Regions from separate parts of the Homo sapiens genome. Here region 1 is linked to region 2. The links come from fine-mapping of genetic effects on gene expression. A gene starts in region 2. The other region holds a variant in brackets. All regions are shown on one strand. Distances are from middle to middle.

Region 1 (8,319 bases), 32 kb after region 2:
TAGAAGGTCACACATAGGATCCCTGCTGCTGCTGTTGTTAATAGTCATGGCCAATGTTATTACTGAATCCTTCTCTGTACCAGGAGCCAGGCACCGGGCCCAGCACTGTCTATAATTTCCTTTCATGAACAGGTTCTACATTATCATCATCTGCAATTGTTTCCATGTTGTGGATGAAGAAAATGAGGCTTGGAGAGAGAAAGTAAATTGTCCAAGGTCACACAAAGGCATCCACAGGCATTGGCCCTAGAGCCTGGGCCTCCCTACTTGAGAACTAAGCCCTTAACCACAGTGGTTGAGCGGTTATGCTGCCTCTCAAGGTTATCTCCTGCCTAAGAGATATTTCTTTCTAGCAGATGTGTGGTGGTTCGCTTTCCTCTGCAATCCGTTTTAGCTCTCTTTGCCCCAAGGATCTGGTTCTCGCTCCGACTCTGCAGAGCCTAGAGCTCCATAGACGCCAGCCCCGGGCTCTCTTTGCTGGAGGTGGCATGGCAGCTCCATTTGCTGTCTTTGTGAAATAAATCATGTCAGTCATGTGACAGCGCACTGTCCCTCATCATAGCCTAGCTTTCCATTCTGATCCACAACTTGGTACCTCAATGTGAAGACTGTGGTCTGGAATGACAAGATTCCAGAATACAGCCATGAGTCACTTAGCCATGGGGACACGTTCTGAGAAATGCATTGTTAGGTGATTTCATCACTGTGTGAACATCAGAGTGCACTTACACAAACCTGGATGGGTAGCCCGCAACACAGCTAGGCTAGATGGTACAGCTGATTGCTCCCACACCACAAGCCTGTATGGCAGGAAGTGCTGAGTAGCAGAGGCAATTGGAATAGAATGGTATTTGCGTATCTAAATGTATCTAATCATAGAAAAGGTGGCACATTGCACTATGATGATATGATGGCTATGAATGACATCACTAGATGAGAAAAATTTTTCAGCTCCCTTATAATCTTTTATTTTTGTTATTTTTCTTTTCTTTCTTTCTTTCTTTCTTTCCCTCCCTCCCTCCCTCCCTCCCTCCCTCCCTCCCTCCCTCCCTTCCTTCCTTCCTTCCTTCCTTCCTTCCTTTCTTTCAAAAAATAAAAGCATACAGACAACCTCTTGCTATGTTGCCCAGGCTGTAGTCAAACTCCTCGCTTCAAGCAATCCTCCTGCTTTGGCCTCCCAAGTCCCAACCATGTTAGCCAGGCTGGTATCGAACTCCTGGCCTGAAGTGATCTGGCCACCTCAGCTTCCCAAAGTGCCAGGACTATAGGTGTGAGCCACCACACCCAGCCTCCATTATAATCCTATAGGACCACCATGGAATATATGGTCCCACACTGTCCAAAACATCATCATGCAGCCCATGAAATTAAACTGTTTCAAGGAGAAAAGCAAAGAACACAAATGAAAGATGGGTGAGGAGGAATCAATTGTGTGAACACTCAAGAGATGAAGACGCTGAGGTCCCAGTAGACCACCGGCTGTCAGCAGCGGAATATGATAGCAGATTTGTTAAGGTAAGCACCACAAAACAGTGCTGCATCCCAGGTGTAGAATGGGCTGAGAACATCTGACACTTTGCCTCCTCTTTTTTGATGTCATAATCACTGTTGTATTATTCTCCACAAGCATCCAGGAGGGAGATTAGTTTGGGCCCCTATCCTCTTAGTTTTATTAGCTCTGTAGAAAGTATGGCTGGCCAGGTGCAGTGGCTTATGCCTGTAATCCTGGCATTTTGGGAGGCCAAGGTGGGCGGATCGCTTGAGGCCAGGTGTTCCATACCAGCCTGGTTAACATGTGTAATCCTGTCTCTACCAAAAATACAAAAATTAGCCAGGCATAGTGGTGCATGCCTGTAATCCCAGCTACTCTGGAGGCTGAGGCAGGAGAATCACTTGAACTTGGGAGGTGGAGGTTGCAATGAGCCGAGATCGTGCCACTGCACTCCAGCCTGGGCGGAAGAGCGAGACTCTGTCTCAAAAAAAAAAAAAAAAAAAAAAAAAGTATGGCCAAGGCTGGTATTTTCTATACTCCTGTCTTCCTTAGCTTCCTTAGCAACACAAAAGCTATAGTGTTGGGTGTCAATGGGCTTTTTATAATATCACATTTCCTAGCCTTTCAGAAATAGGCCTATAAGATGTAAGCAAAGGTTATTGAGTATGGTTTCTGGGAAAGCTCTCCAAAGGAGGCTAAGCTGAGAGGCATGTCCTTTTGCCTTGCCCCTTCCTACTCTCTGCTGCCTGAAATGTGGATGTGATGTCTGGAGCTGCAGTAGCCATTTTGGGATCATGAGGTAGCCCCAAGGATGGGAGCCTCATGTTAATGATGGCAGAGAGCAAGATAGAATGAGCCTGGGTCACTGATGGCTGTGGACCTGCTGTATCAACCCTGGGCTGGCTAACTCTAGACTTCTTTTCACATGAGAGCAAAATTTAACCTCTCCCTTATTATAGCCACTGTTATTTTGATTCTCTGTAGCTTGTAGCCAGGTGCAATTCTTAACCGATAGCAAAGCTTTTGAGCACACCTGATGCCTCACTTCCCATCTCTATTCATGAATAAAGGGAAGTTTGACATGGATATAGCAGGGTGTCCCTGAGGCATCTGTACTGGGAACAGAGCCTGCTTTTTGTGGGCCTGGGGGCCTTGTGTTGGCTTGGTCCTGTTTGCAGGAACGGGCATGCCCGCTGGTTTTATCTCTCAGAACTGGAGGAGGAGAATGAAGTCGTTTGGTGCAGAGGTGCCCTGGGAGGGGAAGGGGCAGCAAGAATGGTGGAGGTGGATGCTGCGAAGTGACGGCTGGGCTGGGGCCTGGGGATCTGTTTCTGGGAGTGGTAGCAAACTTCTGGGCTCAGGCAGTGTCCCTTCTGGCCTGGGTGACAAAGAACAGTGCAGCTATGGGACAGCACAAAGTCGTGTGTTTCTGCCCCAACCCTAGCCTAACCTTGACTCTCTAGGACTGGCAGCCTGGGAACACTGGAGGCCAGCAGAAGCAGGGGATGCAGAGAGGATGGGGCCAGGTGGAAGCCAGGTGTGGGCTTGGACCTGAGCATGTGGGAGACACTCAACATGCCCTGGAATCCCCAGGGGTGGCAGGTGCTGAGGTGGGCTGTGCTCTGTGGGTGTGCAGCCGGGCACTAAGAATCTTGGTAATTTAGCTGGAGAGCTTGTTTGTGCCCCGGGTAGCCGAGCTGGACATGCAGGTTGCAGAGGGAGTTGGAAGCTGATGGACTTAATGAACATCGTAAATCCCACGGCACTCCC[G/A]CATCGTGCCTCCCTGTTGCCTGGTGGAGACTTACCTCTTCAGAAAGCTGGTTTCAGCAATCGCTCCATAAACATCCTTGAAGTTCATGGCCCTCTTTGCTGTCTCGGAGCTCACGCTGCACTTTCTCAGTCTGTTCCATGTTTGCTGATTGAATCAGCAATTCAGCCATTTGGATTAAAAGGCATACACAATTTTTTTTTTTTGAAAGCAAAAACATCTTCTGTTGAAGCAGCTCTGCCTGACCTACCATTTGCCAAAGGAGATGTTCTCAGAAACGTGTTGTTGCCAATGCTCAGAATAAAGATCTGAAAGCCTGTAGCAAGGATCAGAAGCCTCATGGCCAACATCTCTGCATTTATAAAGCATGATTTCTCCTGTGAGTTTGGTGAGGAGATATTTTAACCCTCATTTTGCAGATGGAGAAGGTACGGGGAGGTCTTGCATGTGATGATGAGGCCAGTCATTGGTGGAGACTCCAGGTGTCTTTTTATGTCATCTCACCATCCCTTAGACTGTTAGCTTCAAGGGAAGATGGGCTCATTATTAGCCCAAATATTGACTTACATAGAATAAAAGTGGTAGCTGATATTTGAGCATGGACTCTGAGCCTGGCCCAGGACCAAGTGGCTTTGATCTGTGATTTTGTGTAGTGTGTGTAGCTTACCCAGCTCCTGTTCCTCCCACTTGTGCTTTCTGGTCCCTCCAAGCTTGCTCTAGGTCAGTTGCTGGAATGCACGGGATGCTGGGATAGATGCTCACCCATTTCTGCTGGTCACAGATGAGGAAGCACCTAGCCCTAATGGCAGCTGGCAGCCAGCCTGTCACCCCAAGGACACCATACCTCAGGGTCCAGCTGAGGCTATGGATGACAGAGGAGAGAGGGAAGAGGTCAAGTCCTGAGGACACAGCTGAGCTGCTGGATCGAACCAACCCTGAAGTCCACCCTACTGCTGAACTGTCCTTTAGCCAGGCTGCATCTCCATTTATCATTTTATTTCTTGGCACCTTCCAGAGCCAAGAGAGAGAATCTTCATGTCCAAGGGTCAGCATGCAGCTCATAGAGGGGCCGGAAATCACAGCTGTGTCTGTGCTACTTCTTCCCATCTTCAGGTGCCATGAGTGAATCAGGAAAAGATATTGGTACTGTATTAGTCTGTTCTCATACTGTTAATAAAGACATACCTGAGACTCTGTAATTTACAAAGGAAAAAGGTTTAATTGACTCACAGTTCCCAGAGCTGGGGAGGCCTCAGGAAACTTACAATAATGAGAGAAGGGAAAGCAAACACGTCCTTCTTCACAGGGCAGCAGGAGAGAGAAGAATGAGCAAAGATGGAAAGCCCCTTATAGAACCATCAAATCTCATGAGAACTCACTCACTATTATGAGAATAGCATGGGGGTAACCACCACCATGATTCAATTACCTCCCACCAGGTCCCTCCCACTACATGTGGGGATTATGGAAACTACAATTCAAGATGAGATTTGGGTGGGGACACAGCCAAAACATATCAGGGACTAAGGATACCAAGTCACGGGAGTCATCAGCTCAGTTCAATGGTGTGTCAATTAACAAAGTGTTCTGCAGTAAGAAATCACCCCATCTGGGTGATATGTGTAACTGGCAGAGGAAGTTGGCTCAGTGATGGGGAGCTTCTAAAGAAGCCTGGCCTGGCTGTGGTGTGGGATGTGGACACTGGCCCAACAGAGGGGCCTGTGGCTCCAGCAGAGGGGACATGCAGGTAGCCGATGGCCCAGAGCAGGGCTGTACTCCTTCCACCACACACCACCATTCTTCAGGTGCGGTGACAAGGCAGGGGAAGCTGCTGGGATCTCTTGGGACTTCCAAGGGGCTGAGGTTGTTCATTTACCAGACTTCAGTGGTTACTACAGAGGGCTGTCCTGTGGCCCACAGGGGGCAGGGCAAGAATGAGAGTGGACTTGGGGCCGGGTGTGGTGGCTCACACCTGTAATCCCAACATTTAGGGAGGCCGAGGCAGGTGGATGAATTGAGGTCAGGAGTTCGAGAGCAGCCTGGCCAACATGGTGAAACCCCATCTCTACTAAAAAAATACAAAGATTTAGTGGTGGCCCGCGCCTGTAGTCCCAGCTACTTGGGAGGCTGAGGCAGGAAAACCACATGAGCCCAGTGGGTGGAGGTTGCGGTGAGCTGCGATTGCACCACTGCACTCCAGCCTGGGGGGCAGAGCAAGACTCTGTCTCAAAAAAAAAAAAAAAAAAAAAAAAAAAGAAAAGAAAAGAAAACAAAAAGAGAGTGGACTTGGCCCAGAGGTGGGTGACGGTCAGTAGCCACCTGTGGAGCCTGGGGCTCTGTGCCACGGTGGCCTCTCTGGAGATAAGGTGGCGGGTGCCAAAGGGAGGGACCCTCAGGGAGGAGGCAGTGACTTGGCCAGTTCACACTCCAAGTCTGTATTTTGGCTCAGCTGGCCCAGAAGTTCCTTGGCACCCCTTTCCCCAGAGGGAGACGTGTGCAATGTGTGCAGAGCCCCGCAAGGGGAGGACAGGTTGGCTCCCCACTGCCCCCAGCAGAGGGTGGGAGTGAGACTTAAGAGATGGGACCTCAGTTTCTCAGTGGCAGGTAGTGGGGTGCTGCCCACAGCAGCATTTGCAAGCTATGTTCCTTGGAGCTCAAGGAGGTTGGAAGTTTATGATAGATGCTCAGCAAAAATGTTGTCATCAGCCGTGTACTGTGCTGCCTCTTGGAAAGTCATCAAGGGCCTCAGCGCATTAAATGCTCTGAGGAGTCCTGCATTGTTATATGTGTTTAATTCAAGGCTCCCCATGGCACACCCAGCAATGCCTGTGGAGCACTGGGGTTCCCTGGAATGTAGTTTGGAAACTGTTCTGGATCTGGCTTGCTCTGAGCCTGGACATTGTCTTGGGAACAGGCCAGGCTTGTCATGGCAGGTGGTTTATGAACAGAAAGCTGCCTCATTAATTTGCAGGGAGGTCATCTTCCCTTGCACCCATCATCCCAGATCACTCAGCTCTGGGCAGGCCCCTTGCTCTCTCCCCACAAGCCAGGGAGCTCAGCCTGTTTTTTTTTTTTTTTTCCTTGAGACGGAGTCTCGTTCTATTGCCCAGGCTCTGGAGAGTGCAGTGCTGTGATCTCCCCTCACTGCAACCTCCGCCTCCCAGGTTCAAGCGATTCTCCTGCCTCAGCCTCCCAAATAGCTGGGATTACAGGCACCTGCTACCACGCCCAGCTAATTTTTGTATTTTTAGTAGAGACGGGGTTTCTCCATGTTGGTCAGGCTGGTCTTGAACTCCCGACCTCAGGTGATCTGCCTGCCTCGGCCTCCCAAAGTGCTGGGATTACAGGCATGAGCCACCGCGCCCGGCCACTCAGCCTGTCCTTCTAAGGCAGTTGCTACAGCTTTGTCTTTTAGGGTTTTTTTCTAGGAGGGAGAATGGTCCCAGGACTCCCTCCTGTGTGACTCTTGCAGGTCACTGCATGCTGGGAAGGGGAGGAGGGTCCTGATCTCAGGTAGATCTAGGACATTCCATTCCCGGGCTGGTTCCTGATTTCCCTTCTGGGGTTGTTCCCCAGGCCTCTGTAGCGGGGGGCCCTGTTGGGGCTGGGGGAGCTCAATCTCTGCAGCGGACTTTGGGTCAATCCTTTCCTGGTTCTGTTTCTGTTTCCAAAGAGCCATGCATTCACTCACAACGAGAACTTTCTCTACATGTAAGGCTGGAGCTGGGCCCAGGGATAGAGAAGTGGACAAGATGAAGCTTTGTCCCTGCCCTCAGTGGGTGCTCATGTGGTGTGGGGACAAAGACCTTAGCTGATGAGGCCGCGAGGGAGGTGGTTCCAGGGAGCACATGAGAGGGAGGCACTTAACTTTATCCATGGGGGCTGGAAGGGATTCAGGAGGTACCAGGAAGGCTGGAGAACCACAGAAACAGGGTGCAGCTCCCAGAACCCGAGGCAAAGTCAGGCCACGGGAGCGATCGGCCGCTGCCACCATTGAACACTGGGTGCCACGCCTGGCCCCACTGCAGCCTCTGGCTCTGTGCCCCAAAAGCCACCTACTGTCCCTGAAGTTGGACACTGTGGCCAGAATGGACGGACTTGACACTGTCCCTAATTCTTTTTTTTTTTTTTTTTTTTGAGACAGAGTCTCTCTCTGCCGCCCAGGCTGGAGCGCAGTGGCCTGATCTCGGCTCACTGCAACCTCCACCTCCTGGGTTCAAGTCATTCTCCTGCCTCAGCCTCCCCAGTAGTTGGGATTACAGGCATGCGCCATCACGCCTGGCTAATTTTTATATTTTTAGTAGAGATGGGGTTTCACCGTGTTGGTCAGGCTGTTCTCGAACTCCTGACCTCAGGTGATCCACCTGCCTTGGCCTCCCAAAGTGCTGGGATTACAGGCATGAGCCACCGCGTCTGGCCTCTCTCTTTTTTTTAGAGACAGGGTCTTGCTCTGTTGCCCAGGCTGGAGTGCAGTGACACAGTCTTGGCTCACTGCAACCTCTGCCTCCAGGGTTCAAGTGATTCTTTTGCTTCGGCCTTCTGAGTAGTTGTGCCTGGCTGTGCCCAGCCAGGATAAATTTTTATTTAAGTCCTTTGCACACTTTCTTTCTTTTTTTTTTTTTTTTTATGGAGCTTCGCTCTTTAGCCCAGGCTGGAGTGAAGTGGCATGATCTCGGCTCATGGCAACCTCCCCCCACTGGGTTCAGGAGATTCTCCTGCCTCAGCCTCCCAAGTAATTGGGATTACAGGCGCCTGCCACCACACACAGCTAATTTTTTTGTATTTTTAGTAGAGACAGGGTTTTGTCATGTTGGCCAGGCTTGTCTCAAACTGCTGACCTCAGGTGATCCTCTCGCTTCAGCCTCCCAAAGTGCTAGGATTACAGGTGTGAGCTACCACGCCTAGCTCCCTTTGCACACTTTCTAACTGGATTTTTGTGTTGTCGTTGAGTTGCAGGAGTTATTTCTATATTCTGGATATTAATCTCTTATAAGATACATGATTTGCAAATATTTCTTCCAATTCTGTAGGTTGCCTTGGGCTGTACTTTTAAATTGTT
Region 2 (8,319 bases):
CTGTCCTGACCCCCTCTTGTGCCCTCTTGCCCCCAGGAAGGGCAGCTGGCTGGCAGACAAGGTGAAGAGGCTGATGCGGCCCCGGCGGGAGGGGGGCCCCCCTGGGGGGCTGCGCCTGGGGGCCGATGGGGCTGGCAGCACCGAGAGCCTGGGGGGCCCCCCGGAGACGGAGCTTCCTGAGGGCAGGGAGGCAGATGGGACAGGTGGGTCTGGGGGTCAGGTGGCCAGGATGGTCCCTGCCCCACATCCTCTGTCCCCCACCTTGGCACCTGCCTCACTGCCTGGCCTGCATGCGTGACCCCATTGGCCTTCCCTGAGGCCTGCCCCCCCTGCCCTGATGCCACCAGGGGCTCTTTTCCCTGGGTCCTACAGGGTCACCCTTGGCCCACACCTCCCTCCTGCCTGTGCTGTCCCCGACCCAGCCTGCCCCATCCGCAGCGGAGCCCAGGATCTGGGAGGTGCAGTGGACTCTAGGGAGAGGTCATTGTTCCTAGACTGCAGATGAGGAGACTGAGGCCCCGGGAGGGGAAGCTTTTGCCCAAGGTCATGCAGTGAGTTAGTATGAAGGCCAGCACAGGGCCAGTGTCCTGCTGCCCCACTCATTTGCCTGGCTTCTCCCCCACCTCTGCACCTCCCCTCCCTGGCCCTGGGCAGCTTCACCCACTGGCCCCTCTACTCCATCCAGGGCCCTGTTCCTCTGACCCCCTCCCTGCATGAGCCTCCGCCCCCCCCCTCTGACCCCTCCCCTGCATGAACCTCAGCCCCCTCTTCTGACCCCCTCCCTGCATGAGACTCAGTCCCCGTTCCCTTCCTCTGACCCCCTCCCTGCATAAGCCTCAGCCTCCCCCCCTCCTCTGACCCTCTCCCTGCATGAGCCTCAGCCTCCTCCCCTCCTCTGACCCCCTCCCTGCATGAGCCTCAGCCCCCACTTCCCTTCTCTGACCTCCTCCCTGCAGGAGCCTCAGCCCCCCCGCTCCCCTCGTCTGACCCCCTCCCTGCATGAGCCTCAGCTCCCTCTCCCCTCCTCTGGCCCTCTCCGTGCATGAGCCTCAGCCCCCACTTCCCTTCTCTGACCTCCTTCCTGCAGGAGCCTCAGCACCCCCTCCCCTTGTCTGACCCCCTCCCTGCGTGAGCCTCAGCCTCCCCCCATTCTCTGACCTCCTCCCTACAGGAGCCTCAGCTCCCGTCCCCTCCTCTCACCCCCTCCCTGCATGTACCTCTTGCAGGGTCCCCTTCCCCGGCACCCATGCGCCGGGCCCAGAGCTCCCTCTGCCTGCGGGATGAGACCTTGGCAGGCGGGCAGCGGCGGAAACTCAGCTCAAGGTTCCCGGTGGGGCGAAGCTCTGAGTCATTCAGCCCTGGGGACACCCCTAGGCAACGATTCCGACAGCGCCATCCAGGCCCCCTGGGGGCGCCCGTCTCCCACAGCAAAGGTGAGGGACAAGGGTCACTGTACCAGCCAGCCCCCCAACTCTTTGTGGACCCACCAGCTCCTTGGGGGAGGAGGCTTCCTTCTTGTCCCCTGTGTCTCCTGCAAGCTCTGTCCACTTCCGCACTGGCCCTGGGCCCAGTGGTTGCCTTGTGCCTCCCAGGACCTGGTGTGGGATGGGAGAACTCCGCTGAGACCCTGCAGGAACACGAAACAGATGCCAACCGAGAGGGTGAGTGGGGGACTGTGGAAGGAGTAGTATTCTTTGTCCTGCCTGGGGCCCCTGGCAGAACCTCATTCATCCATTCTTTCATTCGACAATGATCCTTTACCAAGTGCCAGGTGACGTGCTGGCAGGGGACACAGCAGGGAACGTTCTGGTGTGAGGAGGCAGATAGTAAACAATTTGCCTAAAAATAATTATTATCTACAACAGCCCTGTCCACTAGAAATATGGTGTGAACCACATGATAATTTTAACTTTTCCAGTAGGCTTACCAGAAAAAGTGAAAAGAGACAGGTACAATGGATTTTAATAACATTTAACTCAATATGCCTACGCTATTACCATTTCAGCATGTAGCCAGTGTAAAAATCATGAATGAGCTATTAGACGTGATGTTTTTTTTTTTTTTTTGAGATGGAATTTCACTCTTTGGCTCACTGCAACCTCCTCCTCCCAGGTTCAAACGATTCTCCTGGCTCAGCCTCCCAAGTAGCTGGGATTACAGGCATGGGCCACCACGCCAGGCTAATTTTGTATAATTATTATTATTTTTTTTAGTAGAGACGGGGTTTCACCATGTTGGTCAGGCTGGTCTCGAACTCCTGACCTCAGGTGATCCGCCCGCTTCAGCCTCCCAAAGTGCTGGGATTATAGGTGTGAGCCACCCAGCCAGACGTGATTTTTTTCATAGTAAGTCTTTGGCAGTTTCGGAGGCCAAGGCAGGCAGATCACTTGAGGCCAGAAGTTAGAGACCAGCCTAGCCAAAATGGTGAAATCCCGTCTCTACTAAAACTACAAAAATTAGCCAGGCATGGTGTCCCATGCCTGTAATCCCACCTACTCAGGGGGCTGAGGCAGGAGAATCGCTTGAACCTGGGAGGCAGAGGGTGCAGTGAGCCAAGATCACGCCATTGCACTCCAGCGTTGGTGACAGAGTGAGACTGTCTCAAAAACAAAAAACAAAAAACAAAAAAACATAGTAGGTCTTTGAAGCACGTCACAGGCCAACCCCATCTCACCTACTTAGCTCCGCCCTGGGCAGCTCAGCCCTAGACCCGGCTGGACCATCAGGAGGCGCTAATGCTCTGGGAAGAAAGGAGAGCAGGGGAGGGGTCAGGAGCTCAGGAGCTCTGGGCAGGCTGGTTGGAGTTTTAGTAACTGGGGTGCTGGGGTGGGCCTCAGAGAGGATGTGAAATTGGAGCAAAGACTTGGAGGGGAGAGTTTGTCGTGTGGACATACCTGAGAACAGCATTCTGGGCAGAGGGAACCGCTGAGGGAACAGCAGGCGTGGTGCAGCTGGAAGCGGGGGGTATTGGCAGGTCGGGGGTGGGCAGAAGGTGCTCGAGCCTGTGGGCCTCCTGGGACTCTGGGAGTCCTCCTGAGGGAAGCAGATCTCAGCTGAGCCTTTCCCTCTAGGCCCTGAGGTACAGGAACCGGAGAAACGTCCCCTCACCCCATCCCTCAGCCAGTGACACCGTGGGAACAGCAGGCTTGGGAGTGCAGCCTTCTCGGCACTGGAGTGTCAGCGGAGGCCCCAGGCAGCCCAAGAGCTCAGGGAGCCAGGGACCCCAAGGGGAGTCCTTGGACAAGGAGGCCTGGGCCCTGAGATCCTCCACGGTCAGCGCCGGGGCCCGGAGATGGAGCTGGGACGAGTGTGTGGACAGGGGGGATGGCTGGCCCCCACGAGCAGCTCCAGGCTGGAGTTCTGGTTCTTCCAGGTGGCTCCCGCTGAGGCAGCGGTCTCTGGGGGATCCCCCAGCTGAAGGAGGCTGGCAGGAGTTGGCAAGAGAACCCCCTGCCCTGTCCAGGTGGGAAGCTGAGTCCCAGTGCTGGGGGACTGTGGCCTGGGCTGATCTTGAGCCTTAACTGGACATGAGGGGCATGAGAATAAAGCTGAACTGCAGCCTCCTGAGTCTTGCTCTGTCTGTTGGCCGCACTGGGTACCTCAGGGCACCAGGACACATGCCGCCCCAGTCCTGCTGGTTGGTGGGGGTCTGTGGGCAGAGGGCCCCTGCCTGGACAGGGCAGCACAGGCCTTTCTCCAGGGTCTTGGCCAGTCCGGCCGGCCAAAGCCCGGATGTCCTGGTGAGGTGGAGAGGGGATGACATCCTGGGTAGCCAGCAGGGATTGGGGTCTAAGATCTGGGCTCAGGGGTGTGGGGCAGTGAAGCCCCTGTTGCCCCGCCCCCACCCTCTCCCAGGGCACTGTCTTCTCTCTGTTCACATCCTCCTCCTACTCATCTCCCCTCCCTCCTTGAGGTTGAGCCCCCTCCCCAGGGAGTTCTCAGCCTGGCGGGGCATCACTTAATGCCAGGGGTTGCCAGGAGAGGTGGGAGGGACGCTGGCTCTCTGACCAGGGCCTCTAGCCTGATGCCTGAGAGGCGGGGCAATTCGGCTGGGGTGCAGGATGTGAGTCAGGGTACCTGGGGCCACCCAGGGGAGGGTGGAGCTGCCCAGGGCTGAGATAAGGCAGCCTGAACTTGGGGGGTGCAGAGCTGGGAGGGACGGTCCGTCCGGCCTCCCAGGTGTGACCTGCAGCAGCTTGAGTTCCTCCTCCTCTCAGCCAGGGCTTCACAGGACAGGGGCGTGGGGTGGACACCCTGGCCTCTCCAGCTGGCAGAGGAGCTGAGAGCCCCTCCCACCGGCCTCAGGGTGTGGGGCCTCATGGCTGTCCCACTCTGCTAGGTGGCCCCATTGGTGGTCAGGAAGGGAAAGGCAGGAAGAAGACGGAGCAGGGGCTCAGGAGGACCAGTCAGCAGGGGCCCTGGGCCTCATGGGGAGAGGGGGCAGCCCCGTGTGGCACTGACATCTCTTCTTGAGGCCTGCTCAGGGCTCTAAGCTGGGTACTGCACCAGGCTAGGAGACAACAGGAGCAGAACACGTGAGGTGCGCATGGCACCTGGTGGGCTCTGCACGGTGACTGGGGGCTGAAGTGCTTCTGCAGGCACCCCCGACAGAAAGCTGGTCAGAAAACTGGCCACTCCTCTCCTTGCCATGGGGTCCCAGGCCGGGCTCCAGCCCCCTCTTGGTGATGAGGCTCCTCCTTGCAAAGGCCAGTCCTCTGGGGAGAGGGGCCCTGCTGGCCACCCCCAGGACGATGGAGTGGGGTGGGCTCCACTGCCTGAGAGTTGGGTGACTTCCAGGATCCAGACCCCCTCTCAGCCTGCCCAGCACCAGGCACCTCGTCCCCCACCTTGGGGCACAGACTCCTAATGTCCTCCAGCCACTGGCTGCAGCCGGCATTCCCGGGCAGATTCCTGGCTTGGGGACTAATGCCCCAGAGGCTCCAGGTTACCCACGGGCTCAGGGATGGCTCCCACGGGGTGTTTCCAGTTCCCGGGAGAGTCGAGTAAGGTCCCGGAGCGCACGGCCCTGAGGCCTGGCCTGGGGGCTCGGGAGACAGGGCGGCCCCAGCCGGCCGCCCACCGGCAGCCCGGCGCTGTCACGTTCCAGCCGCCTGACTCAGGCCGCGCAGGGCGGGGAGCCGGGAGGCGGTGCCGGCGCCCGCCTCGGCCCCGGAGGCGGCACCAGGAAGCGCCCGCCCCGGCCGGAGCCGCCATGTAACCGGCGCCGCCCGGAGCCCGAGCCGCGCGGGCCCCAGCGACCCGCCCGCCATGGGGGACGAGGACGACGATGAGAGCTGCGCCGTGGAGCTGCGGATCACAGAAGGTGGGTGTGGGGCCTGACTGCGGCTGCCCGGGGCAGGCCGGGACGGGTCATGGACCGGCTGGGCTCATTCGCCCCCTGTGCCCACAGCCAACCTGACCGGGCACGAGGAGAAGGTGAGCGTGGAGAACTTCGAGCTGCTCAAGGTGCTGGGCACGGGAGGTGAGGACCCCCATCCACCGGGCAGGCGTCCCAGGCGCGGTGCCCCTGACCTCCTGCCTGCTCACTCTTGGGCCTGGGCCAGGCCACTGAGCAGGCCCCCCACCCTTTCCCGGCACAGCCTGCCTTGCCTGCCCCGCCCTGCCTCGCCAGAGTTTGCATGCCCACTTCCAGGGCACTCCACATTGACATCACTCCTCCCTCCACGGTCCTGTGCGTGCATACCCCCCTGGATTTGCCAACACCCTGGGGAGGGGGACTGGCGCCCCTCTCAAGTGATTTGCATAGCTCCTCCCTTTCTTCCAATATGGGATCCCCCTCCCACATTTTGCAAATGCCCCAGCGCTGGTTTGCGCATCCCTTCCCCAGCCAGGTGCACACCTCTGCCTCCCTTCCTTGCACTGGCATCTTTTCACATCCATCTGATCTCTCGCAGGTTTGCATATGCCCCGCCCCCATGCCTCGCAGCAGGCCCCCTGGAGATGCATGCTCCCCAGCCTGGTTTGCACATCCTTTCCCTGGTTTTGCTGGGCACCCTCCCGGGGTGTGCACACCCTTTCCTTAGAAGGCTCTGCCAGCTTTTTGCACACCTGCCTGTTGCCCCAGCTCCTTCGCCTCATTTGCACACCCTCCTGGGTTGGCATCGCCCCCACCCCCCAAGCCTGCACCAATCTCCCGCTCACAGCCCACCCTCCACCCACTCGCTGCTCCCACAGCCTACGGCAAGGTGTTCCTGGTGCGGAAGGCGGGCGGGCACGACGCGGGGAAGCTGTACGCCATGAAGGTGCTGCGCAAGGCGGCGCTGGTGCAGCGCGCCAAGACGCAAGAGCACACGCGCACCGAGCGCTCGGTGCTGGAGCTGGTGCGCCAGGCGCCCTTCCTGGTCACGCTGCACTACGCTTTCCAGACGGATGCCAAGCTGCACCTCATCCTGGGTGAGCGCACACCACATCCCAACGGGGTTGGGGTGGCTGGGGGCAGGCGAGGCCACCTGACGGGGCTGCTTCCTGACTTCCACTGCACCTCCCAGACTATGTGAGCGGCGGGGAGATGTTCACCCACCTCTACCAGCGCCAGTACTTCAAGGAGGCTGAGGTGCGCGTGTATGGGGGTGAGATCGTGCTGGCCCTGGAACACCTGCACAAGGTGGGTGAAGACCTGGCCGCAGGCTGTTGCTATGGAAACTGGGTCTGTGCCTTGGAAGGAATCTGCACGCAGGGCAGCCTCAGGCTTCCCCCTGGGCTTCCTGGGGGGCCAGTGGTGAGCTGGGTGGGAATTGGAGCTGCTTCCCCTGGACCCCTTGCAGGAAGCCTCAACGTTGCCTGGTGGGGTCCCCTCCCCTGGCACCTCCTCGAAGGGGCTTTCCTCTTTCAGGGAACTCGGGGCTGCGTTCACAGAACTTCCTCAAATGGAAACCTCACGGCCTGGCTCCTAAGGCCTCCTTGAAATGGAGCTCTTCACACAGACTTTCCTCTCTCTGGGACCTTGGGGCCTGATCCACGGGGCCCTCCTTCTTTGTTTTATATCTTAAATGGCCTTTCTTATTCAGTGGCTCTGCCCTGGAGACCCCCTCTACAGGCAGATGACTTTCTCTGGGGGGTCTCCTTATCCTGAGCAGGGCCAGGAGCTGGAGGAGCTGGGGAGGGTTTCGGGGAGGAAGCCTCAGCACCCCTCTTGCTCCTACCAGCTCGGCATCATTTACCGAGACCTGAAACTGGAGAATGTGCTGCTGGACTCCGAGGGCCACATTGTCCTCACGGACTTCGGGCTGAGCAAGGAGTTCCTGACGGAGGAGGTGAGTGGAGGCCACCTCTGCCTGCAGTGCCCCATTCAATCCTTCTCCTTCCTGCCTCTTCCTGCTCTGGGCCTGCATTCTGGGGCTGCAGAAGTGAATAGCTCCAAGAAGTTTCCACAGCTCAGCTCTCCAACCTCACAAGTTGAGCGAGTCTTACTCTGGGCCTTGTGGGGCACTGGGGCACAGGAGAGGTTTCGACATCTAAGCAGGACCTCTTGCCCTCCCAGAAAGAGCGGACCTTCTCCTTCTGTGGCACCATCGAGTACATGGCCCCCGAAATCATCCGTAGCAAGACGGGGCATGGCAAGGTAGGTTGGCAGGGAAGTGGGGCTGGGGGAGGTGGAAAGGTGGGGTGTGAGGCAGGGGAGATGCAGGCCCTCACCCCGGCTCCACCCGGCAGGCTGTGGACTGGTGGAGCCTGGGCATCTTGCTCTTCGAGCTGCTGACGGGGGCCTCGCCCTTCACCCTGGAGGGCGAGAGGAACACGCAGGCTGAGGTGTCTCGGTGAGTAGGGCTGGACGTGGAGGGCGGCCAGAGGGCTGCAGGGCCTGCCTGGGCAGGGCTGTGGGTGGGGGGCTTGCTGCCCCTGACACCCCCCCAATCCTCCCAGACGGATCCTGAAGTGCTCCCCTCCCTTCCCCCCTCGGATCGGGCCCGTGGCGCAGGACCTGCTGCAGCGGCTGCTTTGTAAGGATCCTAAGAAGCGATTGGGCGCGGGGCCCCAGGGGGCACAAGAAGTCCGGAACCATCCCTTCTTCCAGGTGAGGCTGACTCAGGGCCCCATACCTCCTGGTGCATACCCAGGTGGGGCTGCTGTTCCAGGTTGAGGTTGTGCCTGGCCAGTTTCACTTTATTTGGAAATCCCCCCAGAGAAAGAAAGCAAGTGTGTGTCAGCTAGGTTTCTCTTCACATCCATCCCCACTGAAACTTGGCAGATGTGTTCCTGAAAGAAAGGATTCTAGGTTCATTGGCTGTTGGGGCTGTCAGGGATTTGAGAATGGATTGGTCGGTCCTTTCACTGGACAGACCCAGAGAAGGCAGGTGA

What was found.
Region 1: its variant is fine-mapped to the expression of RPS6KA4 in whole blood (INTERVAL, PIP above 0.99).

The regions. Positions count from the first base shown.
Region 1 is chr11:64,385,851-64,394,169 of GRCh38, forward strand. LOC124902688 (a long non-coding RNA gene) reads left to right here and starts at 1,257. Exons shown (of 2, transcript XR_007062718.1): 1 at 1,257-1,515; 2 at 4,276-4,463. The variant G/A (reference allele first, on the strand shown) is at 3,263.
Region 2 is chr11:64,353,968-64,362,286 of GRCh38, forward strand. It overlaps RPS6KA4 (ribosomal protein S6 kinase A4), which reads left to right and starts at 5,195. Exons shown (of 17, transcript NM_003942.3): 1 at 5,195-5,323; 2 at 5,411-5,482; 3 at 6,196-6,414; 4 at 6,510-6,625; 5 at 7,167-7,274; 6 at 7,502-7,582; 7 at 7,675-7,778; 8 at 7,885-8,035. The coding sequence starts at 5,269. CCDC88B (coiled-coil domain containing 88B) reads left to right here. Exons shown (of 27, transcript NM_032251.6): 24 at 37-203; 25 at 1,227-1,433; 26 at 1,593-1,661; 27 at 3,072-3,567. The coding sequence ends at 3,127. RefSeq lists a silencer at 4,981-5,470 and enhancers at 5,220-5,747, 6,481-6,590.